Linked DNA regions of Homo sapiens: region 2 is linked to region 1. A link means that fine-mapping ties the variant in region 1 to the expression of a gene that starts in the linked region. Tissue or cell type: whole blood. Region 1 holds a variant in brackets; the other region holds the start of a gene. All regions are shown on one strand. Distances are between the middles of the regions.

What was found. PIP is the estimated chance that this variant, and not a neighbour inherited with it, causes the effect.
Region 2: it holds the start of CCDC125, and the variant in region 1 is fine-mapped to the expression of CCDC125 in whole blood (TOPMed, PIP above 0.99). The same link has a PIP of 0.9 or more in caudate, hypothalamus, nucleus accumbens and sun-exposed skin.

The regions. Positions count from the first base shown.
Region 1 is chr5:69,284,984-69,287,744 of GRCh38, reverse strand. It overlaps CCDC125 (coiled-coil domain containing 125), which reads left to right. Exons shown (of 12, transcript NM_176816.5): 11 at 2,278-2,408. Among named protein-coding and RNA genes, the nearest start is that of CCDC125, 46 kb to the left of the region's middle. The variant C/A (reference allele first, on the strand shown) is at 1,275.
Region 2 is chr5:69,331,548-69,334,047 of GRCh38, reverse strand. CCDC125 (coiled-coil domain containing 125) reads left to right here and starts at 1,247. Exons shown (of 12, transcript NM_176816.5): 1 at 1,247-1,399. It also overlaps the pseudogene CHCHD2P2.

The DNA.
Region 1 (2,761 bases):
AAAAAAAAATAGCCAAGTGTGGTGGTAGATACCTGTGGTCTCAGCTACTAGGGAGGCTGAAGTGGGAGGATCGCTTGAGCCTGGGAGGCTGAGGCTGCAGTGAGTCATGATCCCACCACTGCAGTCCAGCCTGGGTGATGGAGCAAGACCCTGTCTCAAAAAAAAAAAACCACCAAAAACTGATGGCCGGGTGCAGTGGCACGCCTGTAATCTCAGGACTTTGGGAGGCTGAGGTGGGTGGATCACTTGAGGTCGGGAATTTGAGACCAGCCTGACCAACATGGAGAAACCCTGTCTCTACTAAAAATACAAAATTGGCTGGGTGTGGTGGCACAAGCCTGTAATCCCAGCTACTCGGGAGGCTGAGGCAGGAGAAATGTTTGAACCCGGGAGGCAGAGGTTGTGGTGAGCCAAGATTGCGCTGTTGCACTCCAGCCTGGGCGACAAAAGCGAGACTCCATCTCAAAAAAAAAAAAAAAAATTGATTAATCTCGCACAGCTTTTATAAATCTATACAAGTTTGAGTAGTTCTTTCTCAGTTTCTCAGTGACAAGACTTTAATTCATTTTATTAGTATATTTCAGTAATCTTAAGAGGTACAGGGTGATACAGATTATTTTATGTTTAGTAACACTTAATATCAACTTTCTTTTTGATATGGCAGTTTAGACAAGTTTCCGGAAGTAGTTTATAGGCATACTTCTTTCTTTCTTTGTATTTTTGCTTTTGGGTTTTTTTTTTTTTTTTTTTATCTTAAACTCCTGGGCTTAAGCAATCCTCCAGACTACCAGCTTGAGCCATCACACCAAGCTATTTCTTTTTTTAGACTGAAAATAGGGACACAGATTCATCTACTCATCAAAGTGTCAGTTTCTCTGACTTCTGTTTGCCACAGCTCCTCGTGGAAGGGGTCAGGGCCGCCCTCGTCACTGTGGTCTGTCAGGATTGGTGGGAAGGGGATCTCCCCTCATCTGCTCTCAGTTTCCCACTAAACCACTTTTGGAGAATATTCCAAAAACATTCTTGAAATTTTCCTTGTACAATCTGAGATTTTATAACTTCTGCAAATTACTTTCCTTCAATGGATGAAGAAGGACATCAATGATGTCAGCACGTGAAATATTAAATATTATGCTAATACCTGAGCAGGGCCTTTGACAATTGTGGTATTTTTTGTTGTTGTCGTGATGGTGGTAAAATATATCTAAAGTTGGCCGGGCGCGGTGGCTCACGCCTGTAATCCCAGCATTTTGGGAGGCCAAGAGGGGGCGAAT[C/A]ATGAGGTCAGGAGATCGAGACCATCCTGGCTAACACAGTGAAACCCCATCTCTACTAAAAATACAAAAAAATTAGCCGGACGTGGTGGCGGGCGCCTGTAGTCCCAGCTACTCGGGAGGCTGAGGCAGGAGAATGGCGCGAACCCGGGAGGCGGAGCTTGCAGTGAGCCGAGATTGCGCCACTGCACTCCAGCCTGGGTGACAGAACAAGACTCCATCTAAAAAAAAAAAAAAATTATATATATATATATATATATATATATATATATATATATATATATAGTTTACCATTTGAACTGTTTTTAAGTGGTATTAAGTATATTCACATTGTAATGTAACCTTCATCACCATCCAGCTCCAGAACATTTTCATCTTTCTTTACAGAGACCCTGTCCCATGAAACAGTAACTCCTCACTTCCCCTTCTCCAGCCCGTGTGATTTATTATTTAATGGCACAGTTCCCTGAGAAGAAGGTAATGCTATTCTCATTTTAGAGATGAGGAAATCAAGCTGAGAAAAGTCACCCGAGGTCATACAGTTAGTAAGTGGCTGAATGAGGATTCAAGTCCAGGTCTTTGCTGTTCGGAAGCAGAGTTTGCATGGCTCAGAGGCCCCCTGTGGCCTGCAGACATGTTTTGTTAGGTTGGCTTAGTGTAGTCAAACAATAAGACTAGTGGCTGACATTTAGAATTGGAAGATGTCATGACAGATCTGCATTTCTGGCTGCTCTTGAAGACTGTGATGATCCAGTGACATGGACTGTGTTCTTGTGTGGCCTGTGTGTCAGCTGGCACAGAGGGGTGGCTGTGCCGCATGGCAGGGCGGCACTCTTGCTGCCTCTCACCTGCATTGCTCCTGGCTCTGAAGGCTGTGCTCTGCTCACTACATTCCACTGTGTGCTCCTGGACTCACTTGTCCTAGAGATCAAGTTACCTCTTTTGCTGGAAGTATATCAGTGAGGATATTTTAATGTCTCAGCTGGATTCTCATGTTCAATTTTAGGATTTCCATCACCAAGGAGTAAGAAGACCTTCGGGCAGAGACTGTTGGGTATGCTCCCTTCAGAAAACAGTTCTAAGAGGATGGAAGACCAGGACAGTCCTCAAGAGGTCCTTAAGATGCTCATAGATTTGGTTAGTGTCTTTGCTTTTTTTTGCAGGTTATGGTTAAGCCAAGCTTGTCCAACCCACGGTCCGTGGGGAGCATGCAGCCCAGAACAGCTTTGAATGTGGCCCAACACAAATTCGTAAACTTTCTTAAAACATTATGAGATCTTTTTGATATATATATATATTTTTTTAGTTCATCAGCTATCATTAGTGTTAGTGTATTTTTTTGTTTTGTTTGTTTTTTGGTTTTTTTGTTTGTTTGGTTTTTGAGACAGAGTCTCTGTCACCCAGGCTGGAGTGCAGCGGCGCGATCTCGGCTCACTGCAACCTCCACCTCCCGGGTTCAAGCAATTCTCCTGCCTCAGCCTCTAGAGTAG
Region 2 (2,500 bases), 46 kb before region 1:
GCAGAAGAGCCAACTACAGATGGGGGTGCCGCTGCTGGTGGCTGAACGACTGGTACTGGCCTGGGTGCAGCTCTCATCTGAGGGGGCCTGGCTGGCCGGAGGGGCCATGCGGGAGGTGCGGCTTCGGCTTCCACGCGGCATCCTAGGTACGCGACGGCTCGGCCTCCGGACGTGTGACGACCGGCTAAATTTTGTATTTTAGTGGAGATGGGGTTTCACCATGTTGGCCAGGCTGGTCTCAAACTTCTGACCTCAGGTGATCCACCCACCTTGGCCTCCCAAAGTGCTGGGTTAACAGGCGTGAGCCACCGCACCTGGCCCGATCTACCCTTCTCTTACAGGATTCCTAGAGACTTAATATTTTGGTTTTGGTTTGTTTCTTTTTTGAGACAGGGTCTCCACTCCGTCGCCCAGGCTGGAGTGCAGTGGTCACTGTAGCCTGGATCTCCCAGGCTCACGGGATCCTCCCACCTGACGGCCTCCCGGCCTCCTGAGTAGCTGGGACTACAGGTACGCACCACCACACCCGCTACTTTTTAATTATTTTTTTTTTTTGAGACGGAGACTCGTTCTGTTGCCCAGGCTGGAGTGCAGTGGCACGATCTTGGCTCACTGCAAGCTCCGCCTCCCGGGTTCACGCCATTCTGCCTCAGCCTCCTGCGCAGCTGGGACTACAGGCACCCGCCACCACGCCCGGCTAATTTCTTGTATTTTTAGTAGAGAAGGGTTTTCACTGTGTTAGCCAGGATGGTCTCAATCTCCTGACCTCGTGATCCACCCGCCTCGGCCACCTAAAGTGCTGGGATTACAGGCGTGAGCCACCGCGCCCAGCCCTACTTTTTAAATTTTTTGTAGAGCGGGGTCTCACTATGTTGGCCATGCTGGTCTCGAATTCCTGGCCTCAAGCGATCCTCCCGCCTTGGCCTCCCAAAAGCTGGGATTACAGGTGTGAAACCCCGCGCCGGTCTGAACCTCAATGTTTGAACCACCAAATTTTACCTGTATTGACACAGGCCCCGTCTTGTTGTTTTTCTAAATCTCATGTCATTGTTTGCATATTGGTTACCCGTGGTTGGCTTTGGAGCTGAAGGTGGACAGAGCTAACATCAGGTTGCACACAGGAACACAGTGAGGTCGCGAAAAAGTAGCGCGAGCTGCCTCCATGGCCCAGGGCGACCTCACCGGCGTTTCCTGTCTGGGACTGCGCCCACGCGGTCACGTGGTGGCCCGGAGGACGCGCGGCGGCAGCGGCGCACGCGCACGGAGAGGAGGCTACTTGCCAGGTGAGCGAGCTGAGTGGGGCGCCGGGGCGGTAGGAGGGTGCTGTTCGCTGAGCTGGAGTCCGGGCTCCGGTCCCCGCCACGGACCTTGAGAGGGTACCCGGGGTCAGACCTGGCAGGTGGGAACCGGGAGTGGGGAGGACCCAGGGCAGGGGCGGGATGCGCAGATTCGTGGAAACTCTGCAGGTTGTGGACAAACTGCCCAAATCCTTTTCCCTGAATGCCAGTTTAATGGCCTCGTCTGATAAGAAAAAAATAAGAAATAGATTTCAGAGACCCTATTTCTCTCTCTGCCTCTCCACCTGCTTTACTTTTTTTCTCTTCTGTTAATTTTGAGCCTTATAAAACTATAGCGCCAGTATCCTGGTTTGGATCCTGAAACAGAAAAAGACATTAGTGGAAAAAATAATAAAGGCTGTGGTTTAGTTAATAGCACGTACCCATGTTAATTTCTTAATTTCGACAAATTGTACACAAATGTTGACATTAGAGGAATTTGGGTAAAAGGTACACAGGAATTCTTAGTACTATCTTTGCAATTTACTGTACATCTAAAATTATTCTAAAATGAAAAGTTAAGAAACAAAATCCTAAAGCAAAGTGCAGCAGGCCATTGTTCACCAGGGAGGGCTCAAGTTAGTTCCTCTTTGTCATGGAGTTAGGCATGTTTGACCAACTTGTTTGCTAAGGCAGAGTTGTCAGGCTACTGAATGTAGATTCTTCTGTCCAAAGGTTTCCGGGCAGGAATCGGTTTTCTCTTTCGATTCTGTCAAATATCTTTGGAACACATGTTGTGCATAAGCAAACGAGACACACAAAGTCTCTGCATAAGGGAATATACAGTCAGTCTAGGTCAGGTAGGAAGTAAGCACTATTAAAAAGATTCAGTAAAACCTCCCAGAACTGGGAAGACTCAGATGTGGAAGAAATCACATCTGGTCCAAGGGAGTCAGGAAGGCTACTGGAGGGAGTGCTGTCCTGAACTGAGGGGGCTCTGAGAAGAAACAGCATTCCTGGGGTGAAGAATGGCACCAATAGAGGCTTGCAGGTGACCAAGCTGAGCTGAGGGAGGAGCCCTGGGAGCAAGTGCAGTTCCTCTTACGTGGAAGCGCAGAGTACATCCAGGGAGTACTGCCAGATGAAACTGGAGGTGAAAACTGTAGCTTTGTTGTAGAAAACAGGGTGACACTTCAGTTGGATACATTATTTTTATTTTTATT